2 separate regions of the Homo sapiens genome follow, and region 1 is linked to region 2. Evidence: fine-mapped expression QTL. A gene starts in region 2. The other region holds a variant in brackets. All regions are shown on one strand. Distances are between the middles of the regions.

Region 1 (10,487 bases), 120 kb after region 2:
ATGAAATAAAAAATGTTTTGGGAATTTTTTTTACTCTCAAACATTGGAATGGTGGGGAGTACTCCTGGCATCTGGGGGGAACCTGAGATGTGAGTTGTGTAGGATGTTGTCACACAACTTTTAGATATTTTGCTTGACTTTCCTGTAGATAAAAATCCTGGTGATGATGATCTGAGCCTGTCAACTCACTCTCTTTTACATATAAACTCATAGGATATTTTGGATAGCCTTAATATACAAGTAAATTGAATTTTCCAGGAATACAACTATAGAATAAATCAAAGGAAGATTATAATGTATTTAGTTTGGAACTTAAGAGGAGTTGTTTGCCCTTTCAGAAAACCAAGGACCCCATGGGAATGCCACCCGTGGTATTGCATTTCTCATGCTGCACCCTGGAACAGCCTGCCATCTGGAACTGGCACGTTTGCGGTGATTTTTCACATAGTGCAAGCATTTGACACCGTCATTTGGATATGCCTGGGTATTTACACACTGAAATATGTTGTATATAGGTAGATGATCAATAATTTCACTTCAGGATACTAAAAGGAGGTATGACAAAGTATTTATTATAAAAAGGGGTGTTGGATCTGATAGAATTAAGAACTACAGTGTTAGGTAATTTCTAAAGTTTAGTAAATTAGGAACTGCAAATATATGAAGCTACATTCTTTGGAAGCCGGAAGCTGGAGAAAATTTATAAAAACTGTATAAAATTTATAAAACTCATAAATGTATAGAATTTTTGAAGTATAGCCAGACGTTGATTCCAAATACTGTACTGACAAGCTCAGGACATTTATATAATCAGTAAGTACCTGCCTACCTCATCTACTCATAGTATTAATGAATACTAAGCACTTAATGTAGCACTTGTCTGCTTCTAAAGGCTTTTCAAACGCTAATTAGAAGAATCAGGTGAAATGTGGCTGTTTGGTTCACAGGTTTGGGTGACAGCCTTTCTGGTTTAATTTTTTCCTAGCTTTGACAGTGTGGCTTCGTGCTGTGTTTTTATTCTTGACAACACCTTAGATATCACTATAGTTGGATAACACGCCAGAGATATTTAACAGGCTAGAGTGTCTGCATTCCTCCCTTCCACGTCCCCTTCCTCCTCTCCTCTTTCTTCTTCTAAAGATTTTCGTATTGGCAAGAAAATATACCATATGTTTACCGAGAAGGCCGCTAGAACAACTGCTTTGGTTGAGGTCTTGTGGGGACATGAATCCACGTGTCTATTTATTTCCACTCAGCCAGCATATAAGGAACACCTGTTATGTGCCAAGCATGGCGTGAGGCTTGTAGATGCAAAGACATAGTCCCTGCTCCCATGGAGCTTGCAGCCTGGGATGAGAGATAGTGGACGCCAAATCACACTGCAAGTGAGAGGGTTTATTTTTGTTTTTCCCTGAAAAGCTTGGCCTTTATTATTTCTCTTTTTACACAAACATCGCATATCTATTGCAGAAAAGTCAGACAATATAAACAACAAAGAACCACATGAGTAAATAAGATACCACCCAGCTAGCTACAACTTGATTTATATTCTTTCAGACCCTTTTCTATGTAACTACACACCTATTTGAATGGACATATATATATGTGTGTGTGTTTTATAAATGTTATATCATTTATTCTGATTTGAAACTTTCTTGTTTTGCTTAACAATATGTTAGAATGTTTTCCCACATCAATAGTTATGGAAACATCATTTTTAATAACTGAGTAGTAGCTTCACTATTGTGGCTTCAGTGTTTTTATTCAGAAAATTGGCCTGTTGCTTTAGTTTTAATTCATCCGTTCAAGAAACTATACAAAGCATCTTCTCTGTGTCAGCCCAGCCTTAGGTAGCAGTTGCTGTGGCAAATGAGACATTCAAAGTCCTGCTGTCATGGTGCTGACGTTTGGTGAAGAGGGAGGAGGCAATACACAGGCTGACAGATAAAATCAGTCAGTTTCAGAGAGGGATACAGACTGTGTTATGGGCTGAATCATGGCCCCCCCAAATTAGAATGTTGGAGTCCTAGCCACCACACCTCAGAATGTGACTGTATATGGAAATAATATCATTATAGATGAAATTAGTTGGGGGGAGGTCATACCAAAGTAGAATGGGCCCTTAGTCCATATGACTGATGTCCTTATAAAAAGGGGAAATTTGTAAACAAAGTCACACACACAGGGAGAACAGACATGGGGGTTATGCCTCTACAAGCAAAGGGATGCCTCAGATTGCCACGAAAACACCAGAAGCTAGAAAAGAGGCAGGGAACGGATTCTTCCTCATAGCTCTAAGAAGCCAACCCTGCTGACACCTTAGTCTTGGATTTCTAGACTCCAGAATGGTGAGACAATACATTTCTATTGCTTAAGCCACATGGACCGTGGTATTAGGTTGGCACAAAAGTAATTGCAGTAAAGCACAAATTGCAAAAACCGCAATTACTTTTGCACCAACACAATACTTTGTTATGGCAGCCCTAGCAAACTAGTACAGGCTTAGAGGAAATAAAATGGGGGTGATAAAGGGGTGGGAAGGTCTCTGTGGACATGGCATTGGCTCCTGAGTGGTGCAAAGAAGCCAGTTGTACCAGATGTCAGGGAAATGCTCCTCACATTGTGGTTCAAGAGGATAGAGCGGGTGTTGCATCTGCTGGGATCTAAGTGAGACTGGTATGGGGTAAGGAGGAGGATTTGAGTGTCGTGTTGACTAATTAAATCCTCACAACATATCTCCCTTTACAGATGAGGCAAAGTAGGCCGGGAGAAGGGCAGTCACTTACCCAAAGTCACCAGAGCCAGAGCTTGGCCCTGGGCTCCGTGGGGCTCTCTTGCTTAAGATGCGCAGAGGTCAGACTGCCAGGGGGCTGGTCAGCCAAGATAACAGGGATGTGATTTGGATATTTAGTGCAGTGAGAAGCCCTTGGAGGCTTTTATTCAGGTGAGCAATATGAGATGACTTACTTTCTAAAAGCTCATTGTAGCTGCGGCAGAATCTTGGGCCCTGGGATCCTTTAAGGCAGCCCGGGATGGATGTAAAAAGGCGAGGGGTGTGGACCTGCTGCAGCGGGGAGGCCGACAAGTAAGCAGAGATCTATAAGCCAGTGGGACTCTGCAGCCAGGGCAGTGCCTGTACACAGGACACTATGCAGGAGGGAGAAAAATTGTCAGCCGGCTCCAGGAGAACCTCACAAGCTGTGCGCTGCTGGAATCGAGGAGAGAGGCCCTGCGGCAGGTTGTGGCTGTGGTAAATGCAGGTGGGCTTCATGCCCGCTTTTGAGGGGTGGTGAATGGTTTCCCATCTTGAGACCCTTGGCAGTGGCTCTCCATCTTGGTTGCACGTTGGAAATACCCAAGGATCTTTCAGAAATGCTGGTGCCTGTGCCCCATCCCCAAAATTCTAATGTAATTTGCCTGAAGTATGGCCTATATACAGGGGTTCTTTAAATGCCCCAGCTTATGCTAGCACAGCAGAATTGAGGTTCCCTGCCCCATGCCAGGCATAATGACAAATGCTCCGTGTGGAAAACCAGATATTGCTGTTTTCCACAGGAGGCCACTACTCTGACAGGTACTTCCGGTTTCCTTCCCTGGGCAGGTCATGGGGCCTCTTAACAGCTCTCCTCGGCAGGCAATGACTATGGAGGCGGCACTGTCTGGAGATATCTCCTGGGCTACTTGTCCTGTTCAGCCTTCATCAGAAACTGTCACAAGGACACCGAGAAACAAACCAGCCTTTTTATGAAAGTGATGGCTTCTATTTGCACTTCGTATTCCTGGTAATTAGAAACCGTATTGAAAATGTGGAGAATCAACCAAAAGCAAAGGTTGAGGGTGGCAAGAATGCCCCCTGGTCCTATTCTCTTCACGCAATTCCCCTGAGTGCTTGCTTTATTGATGCAAACAGGGAGTTGGGACCATTTCCTTTCTTGGTAGGAAATGTACTGGAGAGAACAAAATGTACAAAAGAAAACATGCTTCTAGGTGACTATTGGCAATATCCATATTCATTACCCCCAGATTATGTTAATCAAATATAGTTTTGGAAGCTCATTGCTGTTGTCTTTCCAAGATGAGCAATAAATGTGTGTTGTGCTTTCTCTAGCACTTTAATTCAGGTTTCTCAAAATACTTCACAGCTATAACTAAGGAAGGCTTACAGGGCCTCTGGGAGAAGAGAGTCATCATTGTGGTGCTTGCTGGCATGCTCGAGGGTTCAGTGGGCTCCAAGGATAATGATGATAAAAGCAGGTTTGTTTCAGGATGCAAATAATTACAGTTGAGTAGTTCACTGAATGAGTAGGATTATCGAATTAGGCTAGAGACTGCCTTTGGAGGTGAGGAGAGGAAGGAAACGAAGGCTAACAAAACAGTAAACAGCCAGTAATCATTCCTGCCTGATTTTGCAAATATGCTAAGGGACTACAAAAATCCCTCATGACACACTCGATGAGTAGTTGTCCAGCTTTTTCTGGAACATCTGGGCCGCAGGGAACATTGGCTGATAGAAGCAGCCCTTTCACGTGGTGGGACAGTTAGGATTGCTACA[A/G]GATTCTTTTAATTGATGTCCCCAGGAAAAATGAGGCTGCAGTTAGAGTAAACGTTGCCTGGTTTTCTGAGCCCCACCTGGTGACTGTGGGATCTGAGGACCCTTCTGAGGTCTCTGCCCACTCCCGCATCCAGGTCTTGGCTAACCCTCTCACCACCTCCCTGCTTTTCTTCCTCTGGGCTGAGCTCCTGGCTCTGGGTTAAGAACACAATTCAGGAACCAGGTGCCCTGCATGCAAATTCTGCCTCTGCCTTTACTAACTAAGTGACCTTGGGCAAACCTCACTATGCGTCAGTTTTGCCATTTGTAAAATGGGATCACAGTGGTACCTAGCTCACAGGGTTGTGGTGAGGAGTGGAAGAGCTAATACGTGTAGAGCTTTTAGTACCGCGCCTGGCGTATAGTGCATGCTGTGGGAGCGTTAGCTAGCATCACCCTGCTGTGGCCCCTGACCAGGTGTTTTTTTTTTTTTGTTGTTGTTGTTCCCTGCTACTGACACCCTTCCCACCACCTTCACCTCCTTAGGCAGCTCTCAGAGGGCCCTTGGCCTGATGCCAAGTCCTTAATCAGGGCTTTTTTCTGTTGAACCTCCCCTGGGTTTCTCCTGGCTGCAGCCTGTGCACCTGGTACTTCCACTCCAAGGGATTCTTATTTACCTTTCTCAAACTTGTGGAGAACGGCTTTCCTCTTTCCTGTTTTCCTTTATCTAAAGGGGCCTTCAGCAGATTTGCTTAGGCCTTTGGGTGTTATGCCTCCTCTCATTCTTCTATACTTTTGACTTTTTTCCCCAAGATGCACACATACCTTTGGGATGGCTAGACCATGGTAGGTTCACCTTCAGTTGCCACCCCATCCCTGAAAACATGATCCCCTTCTGACTTTTATGCCTGTGGCTTACTCTGGCTCACTCAGCTAGCATAAGCTTTGATGGTGGATCCTCTCCTGAAGTCCTTGCTCTTCTACTCCTTCCAAGCTCACCAGATACGGCTTTATGTTTGCACCATAACTGGGGATGTGCTTGCATGTCAGCCACTCTGACTTTATACTACGTGGCCAGGTACAGGCCAGATGCGTCTTAATCTCAGGGTCTGCTCAGCTCTGACAGAATATCCTGGTAAACTGAACTGTGATGTGTGTCCCAGTAACTCTCTTCTGTTGTCTGCAGTTTTGCTCTCTGTATCTATACAGATTAGAGTTAATCTGCTTATGGGATAAGTCTTCAAGTTTTTGATAGCAACTAACATATATCTTGGAGTCTTATCTTTCCTAGACTAAACATCTTCAATTTCTTCTGCGATCAACAGTGCCTCACATGTTATAGCTTCTAGATCAACCACATTCTGATTTGTACTTCTTGAATAGGCTGCAGCTTATCATGGTTGACACTTTTGGACCATGACAGAGTGGTAAGGGAGATGTTTTTGATCCATCTGGCCCAGTGTGTGTGTGTGTGTGTGTGTGTGTGTGGTGTGTGTGTGTGCACGCACACACATGTGTGCACAAGCACGTGCCTCTTAAATCATGCAGTGTTGGTGCCTGACAAATTCACTTAGATGTACGATTGGCTTTAAAACCAGGGTTCCTGATTTTCAGATGGCTAATTTTTTCAGTTGTATCTTTGCTGAGTGTTTGATCAAACCCACTTCAAATATTTTTTGATTACCTACCATATTATTTAATGATGTGCTAGCCTGTTTATATTGTATGTGGAGTCTCAGACACAGCCAACTTCGTTTTACTTGGAATATCTTTAAAGGGGACTATGAATCTATAATGACTGCATATTTTAGCTATGCAAATAAGATTGCACCAATTAAGCTTCCTTTTCAAAGCTTGTTGGTTTTTTTTGTTTGTTTGTTTCTAAAAAGTTATTGAGTATATTAATCAGCTTTTGCTGTAGTAACAAACAACCCCAAATTTGAATATTACAATGGTGATGTTTGTCTCTTGCTGTGGCTGTACTCCAGACAGTGGATCGGCTTCAGATCTTTTCCCCAATCTGGACTGGGAGTCTACTCCACACGCCTTCTTATTCCAGGATTCAGGCTGAAGGAGCAATCCCTATCTGATGCATGCTGCTCTTTCGTGGCACAACTGGTGGAAATGTAAAATGTCTCTACTGCTTGTGCTGGGAACTGGCAGTTCCACTGACTTTCCATTAACTAAAGTAAGTCATATGACCAAGCCCAAAGTTAGTGGGGTGAGAAGTGTCCTCCTCCCATTGAAGGCAGGTGAGTCACATGGCACAGGGCGAAGTTGTGCACTTTTCTTATGAAGGAGGATGTAAACAGTTTTGATGATATGTCACTGATCCCTTACTATGCACTAGGCAAAGCAATTATATTTTTCTTCTGAGGCTGTTTTCTCTGAAATGGGCAGATATCTGTACATCTGAGGAAGAAACTTAAGACTCTGATGTGTTCATTCCTGCATTTCCACAATTAATTCTTTAAAGATATAAATAATGATTGCCTGTAAATAGGTAAATTAAAAATTCATCTGCTTCCAACACCAGGCAGAACAAAATAAAGAGAAACCTGTTTAATTTTGTTTGCTTGAAATAATTCTTTAAAAAAAACTTATGAAAACAATTGATTTTTACCTGGTCTGGGACAATATTTCTACTGACACAAATAGTTTCCCATTCTGCTCCCCTGTTTGTCAACACTCCAGAGTTGCGAATACTCTCTGTGTATATATTTGTTGGAAACTGTGGTGAAAACACTCTCAAGAGCATCTACTTGGAGAAGGAAGGATAGGCTTGTTCAGAGATTGGTTACTGAGCGTTGAGACACCACGTTTCTCCTTCGATGCCCCAGTCAGGGAGGGTATCACAGTTTGACATCACCTTCTCCTCTCCTTTTCCATGGACCTCAGGTCCGGTGCCTCAGGTCTTTGCTTGGGGCTAGGTGTCCTTGCATGTGTGGCCACAGTCTGGCATCACCTTCCACTCTTCTCCCGCAGATCAGGGTCTCCCAGGTTAGGGTCTCAGGTCTCTGCTTGGTGTCATGTGTTATTCATTGTATATAAGATAATATTAACAAAACCAGAGTTCAGGAAATGAAAAACTCTTCATTAATCAGATATTACTGGGAAACCTCTCTGTTAGAAGGGACAAATAATACCAAAAACCAGTTAATCCTTCTATGCCACCATAAAAGATTTAAGAATTTGTATTAATCATTGCAAAAGTATTTAATGAGTTCCCGGTGTGTGTTTAGTTCAATGGTAGCTGTTATGGCCATAAAATAAATTATTGTAATCTACAGAATATCAGGAATTTAGGCACAAGGCAGCTTCAGGGAGTGCGAGTGTCCTTTGCTTGTCCTTCCAGATCCACCCAGCAGCCCACTGGCTGTGTCCTGGGGAGCTGACATGCTCCCTTGCCCTCTGGTTGGATTGGTCAATGGGAGGCACCAGCAGGTGATCAGGAGGATGGAAGAGAGGCAGGCCAGGTGTTTATCCCTAGCTTCCCTTTGCCAGGTCACTGTGGGTTGGCTGTGGCTCCAGCCAGGTGGCCCTCTCCACATAGCCCTAACTCTCTCTGGTTCTGATAATTCTTTCTTTATCCCCCCTGTCATTTCAGGCAGTGGGTAGTACTCATGTTTCTAGCCCTTGGAACTGCATTTTGCCTCATGATTTCTCTGCCCACTGCCCTCATCTTTATATATATTAACAGTTCTTTTCACTAACTTTCCTCAAAATACCAGGCTTGAGTGTGCCACGTGCTTCCTGCTGGGATCCTGACTGATACATGGGTATATTAGACGGCTGAGATAGATTCAGGAAATCAACAATACCCGCTGTGTCTACAGAGATACTGGGTTTGAAGTCTGAACAGTGAGGTCTGGGCTTTGACTCTGCTGTGTGACCTTGGGTTTGTATCTTAAAATCCCTGAGCGTCAGTTTTATTATCTGAAATACAGGAGAAATAATAGTTACCTTGTAAACCTGTCATGAGGATTTAATGAGATGATGCTTGTGGATGCAGTTTGGAAACCACAAAGCAACCTATAAGTGTAGGTATTGAAAATGTGACCAATGCCCCAAATATAGCTAAGAGACCGTAAGAGACTTGGTAATTAGCAGAAGTAGATCATAAGCTGTTTGCAATGCTTTGCTTGCCAAAGAAGAAGAGTGAACCATAAAAGTTTAGAAAAACTTTGAATGGAAGACTGATATAGCAATATTTTTTCTGGTTCATATTTGATTAGCCAGAAAAGTTAATTAGTTAGAACATATTTCCCAAACCTTCCAGTTACTTGGAGTTTAACTGCATACAAAAGTTATTGGGAAGTCTGATGGGCCCATAGGTCATTTCTAAATACATGCAGATTTCCAAAATTAACACTGAAAAGTGAGAGCACACTATCATACCATGAATATAGAGTGAATACTCTGTACTCATGAATCAGGAGACCGGAGGTTTTGTCCCAGTCCCGTAGGACAAGCTATGGGTGAGACTTGAGTAAGCCACAGCTTGCTAAGGTTTCTATTTTCTCATTTAGAAAATGTTGATAGGGACTTTTTAATGCAACACTATAGTTGCAAAGTGTACTCATGAGAGATGCATAAGGTGGCTTTTTGCACAAAAATTCTGGTCTCCTCATCCCAAATGTGATTGTAGAGGCCATTCTGAAATGATGAGATCATAAAATATTTGTATTTGAGATCATCCAGCCTGGCACCTTCATGCCATGTGTAATCTGAGCCCCCAGAAGACAATCTGCACCCACTCTGGCTGGATGCCCATCTCAGCATGTCCTTACACTCAAGACAGAACACTAACTGGACTCCTAAGATACTGAAGGAAATGGAAGCCTTTCTGGCAAAATAGAGAAATGCTATCACATATCTCACACAATTCCCTCTTGTATTAGGTCCCTCTGGCTGCTGTAACAAATGGCTACAAATGTAGTGGCCAAAAATGACAGATTTGATATTTTACAGCTCTGAGTCTGCAGGGCTGTGTACCTTCCGGAAGTTCCAGGGACAGTCTATTTCCTTGCCTTTTCCAGCCTCTAGAATTTAGAGGTCACCTGCATTCCTTGACTTGTGATTCTTTCCTTCTTCAAAACCAGCAACATAGTATCTTCTCTCCTCTCTGATCCCCTGCTCCCCTGTTCTAAGGATCCTTGTAATTATATCAAATCTATTCTCTAATCCAGGATAATCTCCTCATCTCAAGATTCTTAACTTAATCACCTCTGCAGAGTCCCCTTTGTCATAGTCACAAATTCTGAAGATTAGAACATGGACATCTCTGGGGAACATTATTCCATCTTCTAAGAACCACTCTTATCTTAGACATGTCTCTCTTCGTATTTCTGTACTCTATGGCAAACTGCCACCTCTCTCATCTCTCTTTTCCTGAAAACACTCGGCTGAGCATTTATATGCTTTTGGAAAAATTCTGTCCCTAATTAAACAAAAACTTAACCAGAACTACATGTACCTATTGTCTGTCAAGAATACTCATGGTAGAGTCATTTACTCAGCTGCTTTCAGAGGAGCAGCTTCAGAGCCTGAGCGCTGAAGTGGTTTATTTGAGGCCACACCCAAGTGATGGCAGGTGTCCTGACCTCCAAGCCAGTGCTTTCCGTACTGCTCCGTATTTAAAAAGGTGAATGGAGCAGCCTATATTTTCTGCATATAATGTTATCCCAGGCTTGGGATAATCTCCAGAGGAGAATTAGGCATTTGCCTAGTTGTCTATATGGTCGTGGTCCTTCTAAACATATTTTTTTTCTTGCAGGATTTGAGGGAAGAAAGATGACCTAATCTTGAAAGTCTTCCTAGAGATTTGGCCTCAATAGGAATTTCCTCATCCTGATCTGGAGAAGCCCAATTCTAGCAGAAGTCTCCTAAATGAACTTGTTCACATTAGTATTAACAAATTGGCTTCCCCAGGGTTGTGCAGGAAAATCTTTAAGTG
Region 2 (10,487 bases):
GGGTTTCACCATGTTGGCCAGGCTGGTCTTGAACTCCTGACCTCATGATTCGCCCGCCTCAGCCTCCCAAAGTGCTAGGATTACAGGTGTGAACCACTGCGCCTGGCCGACAAACACCTGTTCTTTATTATTATTATTATTATTGGGAGCCAGAGTCTCACTCTGTTGCCCAGGGTGGAGTGCAGTGGCGTGATCTTAGCTCACTGCAACCTCTGCCTCCTGGATTCAAATGATTCTGGTGCCTCAGCCTCCCAAGTAGCTGGGATTACAGGCACCCACCATCACACTGAGCTATTTTTTGTATTTTTAGTAGAGACAGGGTTTCACCATGTTGGCCAGGCTGGTCTCGAACTCCTGACCTCAGGTGACCTGCCTGCCTTGGCCTCCCAAAGTGCTAGGATTACAGGCGTGAGCCACCGTGCCCTGCCCCTTAATTATTAAGATAGAGAATTTAAAGATGTGGCTTTTTAGTTAGATTATTTCCTTATTTTTCACTTCAGCACTTATATACTCTATTACTACTATGTTTTCTGAAAATGTAATCGCTAGTTGAATTTGGGCTAAAAATAAGGACTTTTGCTCTTCTTCAGGAACTATGATCTCATAGGTTGAATTAGACAGGATATCATTTAATGCAGTCTGAGACTCTTGGCAGAGAAGTGGATGAATAGAATTGCTACTTGAAGAGAGAAAACACTCTGAGAGGATTCAAGCCTAAAACTCCAGGTACAAGTTTTTCATTATTTTACTCTATCTACAAGCTGAAGGAAGGGAAATTTGGGATGAAATGGCTTCTGAAGGAATGATATTCTAGTTGCACTGTGAAGAAAGGGCAAGATATGGGGGAGCACCTGGAGCCCTGTTGTCTGTTCTAGAGAACCTGGTGTGTTTTCCACAGTGATTGTTGGAGAAATTTCCTGAAAAGGAATTTTTTCCCCTCTCGTAGCTGAATTTGAATCTCCAGGTGGAAGTGAATTGTGAAGGTGCCACTCTTCTCTGCTGGAAGTATATGCATTGAGGCCAGCGTGTCTAGGTAATTAGAGACTTTTCTGTTTGAGACCTGAGCAGTACACATCCCTTCTACTGCTGAAGGCTTCACTTTCCTGTGGGCGGCAGGTGGGTACCCGAGACCACAAAGAGCTGTACTCTGCCTCTTGCCCACTCCCTAGACCAGCTCCAATCACCACCTCCTGATTTCTTCTGCATGGTGTCTTCAGGTTCTCATCCTAGTGGAACTTGTAGGCTTGCAAATTCAATCTCTCCCTTTCAACCCTTCAGTCAGCTCCATTCAACAGGTATGTATTGAGTGCCTTTGTGTATGCCACGTACTGTGCCACATTCAACAGTTTCGGTGATGAACAAAATAGACAAAATCCTGAAACTTACAGGTCATTTCATTTTTAAAGCCTATGTTTGATATTCTTTTTATGCTATGAATTTGTTCTACAGTATTTCTAAAAATGTGTGTATGTGTGTATCATCAAATATTTAAAATCCACCAGAGGAATTTATCCCTTAAAAAGAGGTCCCCAGGCCGGATGTGATGGGGAGCTGAGATGGGGGTATCTTTTGAGGCCAAGAGTTTGAGACCAGCCTGGGCAATACAGAGACCCCTCCCCCATCTCTATAAAAAATACAACAATAAAAAAATTAGCCAGGTGTGGTGGTGTGCACCTATAGTCCTAGCTATTCAGGAGGCTGAGGTGGGAGAATCACTTGGGCCCAGAGTTCGAGGTTACAGTGAGCTATGTTTGTGCCGCCACACTTCAGCCTCCAGGGGGACAGCAAGACTCTGTCTCTAACAAAATAAATAAATAAGTAAATAAGGGCCTAGTAGAAGTACTTGATTTTTTAATTGAGTAATCTTGCTTAAGTAATTTCATATATGTCCTGTGTTTTCATGTTTGGTTTTCTAAAGAGGTGAATCATCTTTTTAAAATATATGAAGAAAACTTCCACAGAGAAATGCACATTCCAGTTGGGTTTAATTATCCCTCATTTGGAATGTGCAAAGCTGAGGTTAATCATGTTTCTCTACAAGTTACAGCTCCCTTCAGTTTTTTACCAGCCATGCAATGATAAAAGATAACCACTAGCAGGCGCTAAGAGCCTACTCGTTGGCCCAAACTTTGCTCTCAATGTGGGGTTTTGATGCTTGCCAGCAGTCACATCTGCTTTGTGGTATGCATTCGTGCTGTATCTGAATAGCATTTTAGTTTGATTGACTATTTTTGGGTGTAAATGGTAGAAGAACAGTTAACCAGGCCTTTTCCTTTGTTTAGTTCACATCTGGGTTTTAGGGCCTTACTGGCCCTAATCCCCTAATCCTCCCCTTCAAATACCTTTGAATAAGAGTAAGATGAAGGAACGAACTTACGCTCAAGCCACAGAGCATATGACTCATCTTATATTTTTTTTTATAATGGAAAAAAACATTGGACTTAGGGTTAGAAGACCTGAAATCAGGTCTCAGCTCTACCTTCCTAGTTCTGATATGTACTGTGGAAATGTGAAAAGATGGCATGGCAGAGTTTGCTGAGAAAAAATTAACTGAGAAGACCTTTGTCTGGATGGTCTGGGGACCAACGATTGACGTTTATCTGAGGGTGATTAGACCTTGAGAGACTGACTCTTACAACTAAAGGGTACCTGAGACTGTGACAGACCCAGAATATCAGTTTAGTAAGTTGTGCTGCATGGGAAGTCAGGTCTTAATCACAAAGAGGGTTTGGGAGGAGAGCCACAGCCAAGCAATGTGGATGATATTTTTTTTTTTTTTGAGACAGAGTTTGCTCTTGTTGCCCAGGCTGGAGTGCAATGGCATGATCTCGGCTCACTGCAACCTCCGCCTCCCGGGTTCAAGCGATTCTCCTGCCTCAGCCTCCTGAGTAGCTGGGATTACAGGCATGTGCCACCATGCCTGGCTAATTTTGTATATATATATATATATATATATTTGATATGGAGTCTTGCTCTTGTCACCCAGGCTGGAGTGCAATGGCACGATCTCGGCTCACTGCAACCTCCGCCTCCCAGGTTCAAGAGATTCTCCTGCCTCAGCCTCTTGAGTAGCTGGGATTACAGGCACCTGCCACCACGCCCAGCTAATTTTTGTATAATTTTGAAACCCCGAGACGGGGTTTCACCATGTTGGCCAGACTGGTCTCGAACTCCTGACCTCGTTATCCACCCGCCTTGGTCTCCCAAAGTGATGGGATTACAGGGGTGAGCCACTGTGCCTGGCCGCAATGTGGATGATTTTAGCAAAAGTCTCAGCTAAGATAGCTTGAGGGACTTCCCCACCCTACAGAGCCTTGCTAATGGCACCGCATCCTCAGAGTCTGTGAGCCACAGACTCTGAAAATAGTCAAGGATTCCCATTGCGTCTCTCTGCCTCTTGGCCCCCAGTTCTCTTTGCTTCCATGGCTTCCTGCCTTCCTTTTGAAGGGACAAGCCCTCTCTTTACCTTGGGCTAATGAATTCAAACAGGTTACATCTTGTGGCCTCCTCAAGTGGCCTTTTGTACATCTATGCTGGAATGGATTAGACACTGGCTTTACAATTGCTTTCATTGGATAATAATAATACCCTAATTATTTAGCTTGTATCTCTACCAAAGGGAACTCCCACTTCCAATTAATCTACGCTTCCTATAAATCATTCTAACAGTGTCTAATGTGAATGAGTGTCCAGCAGTGCTGGGCACTATGCTGAGTACTTCATATAAATTATCTCACTTGATCCTCACCATGCCCTAAGGGGGCATTTACTATCTCACTTTGTACATGAAGAACCTGAGAGTCACGTAGGTGAAGGGCCAGCTCAAGTGGTGAAGACAGAATGTGAACCTAGGAGGTCCCAGTCCAAGACAGCAATCTTAACAACTTGGCAATTTTTTTTTTTTTTTTTTTTTTTTTTTACCATTTAGTGCCTGAGTTCTGAAATCTGGCTTTACAAACACTATGTGTGTGTGACCTGTGGATGATCTGGGCATTATTATATTCTGATTGGTTGAAGTTTCATGGTTCGAATGTCAAATTCTAATGGAGGCATAAGAGTGCAGATTCCATGAGTGCTTTTACAAGAAGTTGATGTTGCTTGGGTTTTATGTTTTATGTTGTATTTAGCACAAAAGCCATTTTAAAAAAGTGTTATAAGGAAATATCTGAAAACATTCAGTCCATAGACCCTGGTGATGAAACGTCCCCCAAACACAATGGCTCACTCAGAACATACTCCTATGGAATAGTTTCCACAAATCAAACTCATACGAATATAGGGAGGATACATAAGAATGCAAAATCAGGCCAAGCCTGCTGGCTCATGCCTATTATAATCCCAGCACTTTGGGAGGCCAAGGCAGGTGAATTGCTTGAGCGCAGGAGTTCAAGACCAGCTTGGGCAACATAGTGAGACCTTCTCTCTACTAATAATAAGAAAGATTAGCTGGGCATAGTGACTCATGCCTGTAGTCCTAGCTACTCAGGAGGCTGAGGTGGGAGGATCACTTGAGTCCCGGGGTTCAAGGCTACAATGAGCTGTGATCACGCCACTGAACTGTAGACAGGGTGACACAGATCTTGTCTCAAAACAACAACAACGGCAACAACAACAACAACGTTCTGAAGCATCACATTAGCCAGGGGTTTCTGAATACTTACTTTGTACCAATGTTACTTTAAGTTCTGCATATATATTACTAGGTTGGTATAAAAGTAATCGTGGTTTTTGCCGTTATGTTTAATACTTTGCACCAACCTAATAGCTCACAGAATAAAAAAAAAAGTCTATGAGGTAGGTACAGTTTTCATCCTTATTTTACAAATGAGAAAAGGAGGCCAAGAATGATAAAGTAACTTGGTCTCACAGCCAGAAAGTGATGGAGCCAAGATTTGAACTTGGGCAGTTGGACTGTGTTCTTAGTCACTGTGCTTCCTGGGTGATTACTGTGACCCTTGTACTTGACACTCTGCTATCAATTACAAGAGCCATTTCTGTGTGTGCACTTGATTTCCTTGGGGTCTCCAGGGAAATGTAATTGTCTCCTCAAGTCCAGGCTTTCCTAGAAGACATGGTGATTGCACTGATAACCAGCATTAGGGCTGGCTTTGGGAAAGCTCAGTACCTATGATTTATGGTTAGTATCTTAGATTTTAGAACGCTGAGCAGGAAGTTTTTGTGCTTTCTGAAATCCTCACACCTTTAAGTCTCATGATTGGTGAGGAGGCAGTGGTCCAAGGGAATGGATAGAAGGAGATAATAAGATAAGCCAAATGTTTCAAAGGGAGTGAAAACTGTTGAATGTAAATGCAGCTCAAGGAAGACTTCCCTATCTGAATAAAAAGGTGCAAATAATGCGGCCTATTTGTATGCATGGTGGCTTAATGATGTTGATGGTGATGATGATAGCTTTACACTATCAGAGCGCTCATTCTGGGCTAGGCAGTTTTCTCAGTGGGGTACAGATATTAATTTATTTACAGTGAGCCAGAGAAGTCTGCTGTAGCTTTTAATGCGTCTAAAATGGGACACATGAACCCCTTAGGAATTTTCAGACTGATCAGGACAGTTTCCTAGAAACAGTTCGTGAAAGGGATGAGATGGGCCCATGGTATCTACCCCTTCCTAGCTGCGTGAACTTGGGCAACTCAACCTTCTTGTGCTGTTTCTCTATGGCTAGTGCGTGTAATTTGTTGTTGTTGTTGTTGTTTGCTTTTGAGACGTTGTCTCACTCAGTTGCCCAGGCTGGAGTGCAGTGGCACGATCTTGGCGCACTGCAACCTCCTTCAAGTTATTCTCCTGCCTCAGCCTCCCAAGCAGCTGGGGTTACAGGCATGCGCCACCATGCCCGGCTCATTTTTGTATTTTCTGTAGAGATGGAGTTTCACCATGTTGGTCAGGCTGGTCTCGAACTCCTGACCTTAGGTGATCCGCCCACCTTGGCCTCCCAAAGTTCTGGGATTACAGGTGTGAGCCACCACTCCCGGCCTAGTATGTGTCATTGACAATTGTTCCTACCTCAAAGGCTGTTATGAGGATTAAATGAGCTAATGCATGTAAAATGCATCTGCATAATATATAACACAGCTCGATAAATGTGAGTTGCTATTGTTGATTATTATGGCCACGTTTGCCGCTGATGATGTTCAACCACTGAAAAGCATCGTTTTCTTTCTTCTAGTAACTGTGTGTACTGAATGCCTCGCGTTTGTCCCTACTGCACTTTTCAGTCTGTCACAATCCTGGGTCGTCGGGGGACTGTACCGAGCGCCCTTGGAGTGCTCGCAGCAGGGAAGAAGGAGCGAGCAGGGAGGAGCTGAGGAGGGTCGGAGCGGAATGGACACCCAGAGACTGAGATGAGAGAGGGGCTATAAGAAGAGAAACCAGTCGCAGGAAAACAGAACTCTCGACAAACGCACGCCCTCTTTGCGCTCTCCGTTTCTCTGGACCTGGATGGAATTGTTTTACTTTGCATCGCCGGACTGCGCTGCGGACGGGGTGGGGCGGCCCAATGGCCCCCCTGGGGTTACTCTGCTCCCCTTCACGCTTCCCTCCCGGCCCCGCCCCGCGATTGGCCGGCGCGCCCCGGGGCTGCCGCCGATTGGTGCTCGCCGGCCGGAGCCGCGGGGCTTAAAGAGGGGGCGGGGGCGCGCTGCCCAGCAGCGCTGCTGTCCCCGCCGTGCGCCCTTCGCCGCTGAGCTCGCAGCCTCCGGCGCCCACCTCCACCTCCAGTGTCCCGCCTCGGGCCGTCGCCCTCCAGCGGCTCGCGAGCGTGGGAGACGTACCTGGGCAGGCACTGTCCAGCCCAGGCCCAGGCACAGCCGTGAGGGGCGAGGCACGGGGACATCCTGGCGGCCACCATGGTGGCCACGTGCCTGCAGGTGGTGGGCTTCGTCACGAGCTTCGTGGGCTGGATCGGGGTCATCGTGACCACCTCCACCAATGACTGGGTGGTGACCTGCGGCTACACCATCCCCACCTGCCGCAAGCTGGATGAGCTGGGCTCCAAGGGGCTGTGGGCCGACTGCGTCATGGCCACGGGGCTGTACCACTGCAAGCCCCTGGTGGACATCCTCATCCTGCCGGGTAAGGACCCGAGCTTGGCGGCGGCTCCCAAATCCTTATCCTCTGGGTAGAGAGCGGGATATTAGACGGCGTCACAGAGACATTTTGGGGGCTTGAAGACCTTTGGGTACGTTTTTGACATCCCTAGTCCCACCTTGTTGTAAAAGAATTAGGCAGCCCCGAACTTAACTTCTCTAGGCCGCAGTATTCTTATCTGGAATTTGAGATAATAGTGGCAATGTGGCCGGTGGTAACACTGGCCGGGTCCCTTTGAGAATGAACAAACCGGAACACCTAATAGGAACTGAGTCCGTGTTAATTACTGCGGTCCCAGCCCGCATCCTTCCACCGTCCGCTTCCCGAAGTGCTTCCCGCTCCCGCCCGGCCTCCCCCGGGGCGCCGAGCCTTCGCGTTAGGTTCCGCCCGCAGAGGTGAGAAGGAGCGTGTAACACAAGCTGACAGGAGAATCGAACCGGCTCAGGCTGAGTTTCTCGGTCCTCATGGGATGGGCGAAGCGCCCCCGGCCAGGTTAGAGCCCTCCTAGCTCCGTCCGCGCAGCCGCTGAGCAATTCACGTCCAGGGCTCTCTGGGCTGCCTGGTTTGGGAAATGTCACGTTGATTCCCGCACGTGCCCAGGGCCATCTCCGCTGCCCCCGCTACCCCCGCCCCTGCTGTGGGCGCGTCAGACTGCGGGGCTGCGGTGACGCCGGCTCCCGCTCCGCGCCGCTGGGTTGGATAGGGACGAGCGGGCGCTCCTCGGAGGGCGGACTCCACTGGGGAGATACGGAGCGCGCCGCCGAGGGTCGCTCGCCGCCACCCCTCCAGCGTGTCTCAGATTGGGAAGGGGAGGTAAAAATTGACAGCCTAGCGCCGGCCAGGGGCCACATTTTCACATGTGTCCTGTGGAAACATTTTGGGCGACAGCCTCAATTCAGATTTAAACCAATGGGTTGGGCAATGGCGAGGTCGCGGGCACCCCCTTGGTTTTCTGCTGGAATCTCTGCTCTACCCCCAAGGCATGTCCCTACAAGGTGGGCTTCTGTCCCCCAGCCTTCGTGGATTGTGCTCACTTAAAGGATTTTCCCGGTTTCCTCAAGATGGGGAGAAACCTGTCCCTGAAGCCGCCAGTCAGATAAGACTGTGCTCGCCCCTTAAGCCTCCTCCAAGCACGCCCTATTTCCGGTCCTCGCAGTCGGAATCTGAATCCCTCCTTTCTCCTTGCTGCCTAGTACTTGGCTCTTATCCTCACAAAGGCACATTTTATCTTGTTTTTTGTTGATTGTTCGTGAGTGAAGTTCTCCCACTACGTTTTAAATTCCTTGAAGATAGAGATGGCGTCCTGTTATTCTCTTTGCTTCCTCTTCTGGACCTGGCATGGCCTCTGGCACACAATAGCTGCGGGCAGTGCTTGCCTGGTTTGCCTTACGCTATCCTTTCCTTCATTTTGAACTTTCAGAAGGCCAGAGGTCAACGAACGCAGATCTAGACTCAGCTTTGGCTAATGCTGGTGTTGGCAGACCCGGGCCAGCCTCCGGCATCCAGGACTCACAATCTGGGTGAGGGGGGACAAATTGCTAGCCTCAGTGAACCACGGTTGTCTTCTTTTAAAAGTTAAAATCAGATCAACCACCCATCTTTCACGATTATTTGAGGATTAAATGAGATAAGAAATGTAATCTCCTTTGAGATAGTAGATGCTTCATGAATGGTACCTATAGTATTTTATTAAAAGCTGGGCATGGTATTTGTAGGGATCTTTGAAGCATAAAATTAACTTTGTTTTCTTCTCCTGAAATTAACTTTACTGAGCATTCAGTGCCAAGTGGTTTGTTTTCAGAGAACAAAGGCTGTCCTCCAGAGGGGAGTGCATACTCTGGGGGTGGGGGGGGGGTGGGGGGCGGCGCTAGTCCTTCCTGCCTTCCCCCTCCCTCATACTTTGGGTGGAGGCAGGAACAGTCCTCTGTCCCTATCTTTTGGTGTCCGGACATGGCCTTGGCACTGTAGCATGTGGACAGCCAGTGCCATGGATTTCAGAACCTGCATTGCCAGTTGACTGCCTGCTTTGTGTGAGTACTGGCTCTCTACAAGCCGCAGAGGCGGACGGCTGGGTCAGGGGATGGGCCTCAGACTTCCTGGAGCTCCTTTCTGGAGATCTTCAAGTCAGTAGACACTTGACTGATTATCTTTAATTCTGAAGGAGCTGAGATGGGCAGTGCTGGAAGAGGGCCCTTGTGAAGTCCGAATTCTGGCAAAACGTTCCTTGCTAAGAGACAGCGTTGAAGTTAGGCCTTTTTGCACGTGAGGGTCGTGGTGTGTGAGGCAGATGTCGGCTAGATTCCTGGCTTTGCTATGAACTCTGCCTCACCCAGGCCACTAGTACTAGTTCCTTCTGAGCAAAAAAGGGAGGGTAATAAATGTGACCCCCCCCACCTTTTTTAAGAGGAGGGAGAGTTTTAATGAGAAACATTACATTTGAAAGTGAAACAAATTTGTCTGTGAAATTCTCCCAGTATCTTGTCAGATTTATTCTAAATAAATGTGACACATATTGTAATCTGTTTCTTAATACAGTTTTTACTTGGCATTTTACTTGACAGGATAAAGTTCATGTAGTTTTGCTCTACTCTTCTATTTTTCAGTTCTCTTATTCCTTGATTCGCAATTGTTTCCATGATCTGTTGTGGGCACTGTGTTAACTCCGTGAATACCAAGGCAGGTGTCTGCCCTCCAGGAACCCTGAGGGCTGGAGAGATGCCTTTTAAGCAATGATGGACAGTTGGGGAAGGATGCCCAGGGCACTGTGGGTGAGGCAGGAGATGGGGTCCAACAATTTAGGGGCAGGATCCATGAGGACAGCAGCCTCTGGGGAGACAGCAAAGAGAGGAAGCCTGAGTCTTAGTTTAGTCTGGGTTAGGGCCACAGCCAATGTGAATGAAAGCACATGGTTAGGAGAAAATCACCTAGGACACCTGAAGATGAAAGCGCTGCACTGAGACAGACAAAGAACACCAATGATAACAACTAACCTTTTTTGAGGATTTGGTATAGGCACTGTTTTAAGCACTAAATAAATTAACTAATGTAATCTTCAGTAGAATTCTATTACAGAGATGTAGGTACTATTATATTATTATCAATACTTTGTTTGTTTATTTATTTATTTATTTTGAGAAAGAGTCTCGCTCTGTCACCTGGGCTGGAGTGCAGTGGCTCGATCTCAGCTCACTGCAACCTCCCCCTCTCAGGTTCAAGCGATTCTGCTGCCTCAGCCTCCCCAAGTAGCTGGGACTACAGGCTCACACCACCACACCAGGCTAATTTTTGTATTTTTAGTAGAGATGGGGTTTCGCCCTGTTGGCCAGGCTGATCTTGAACTCCTGACCTCAGAAGATCCACCTGCCTTGGCCTCCCAAAGTGCTGGG

What was found. PIP is the estimated chance that this variant, and not a neighbour inherited with it, causes the effect. A credible set is the group of variants that fine-mapping cannot tell apart.
Region 1: its variant is the best candidate, but not a certain one, in a credible set for the expression of CLDN11 in skeletal muscle (GTEx, PIP 0.71).

Annotation. Positions count from the first base shown.
Region 1 is chr3:170,527,661-170,538,147 of GRCh38, forward strand. The region is part of intron 1 of SLC7A14 (solute carrier family 7 member 14); the gene reads right to left. All of the region lies in intron 2 of SLC7A14-AS1 (SLC7A14 antisense RNA 1), which reads left to right. Among named protein-coding and RNA genes, the nearest start is that of SLC7A14, 53 kb to the right of the region's middle. The variant A/G (reference allele first, on the strand shown) is at 4,553.
Region 2 is chr3:170,412,207-170,422,693 of GRCh38, forward strand. It overlaps CLDN11 (claudin 11), which reads left to right and starts at 6,662. Exons shown (of 3, transcript NM_005602.6): 1 at 6,662-7,086. The coding sequence starts at 6,861. RefSeq lists an enhancer at 6,410-7,362.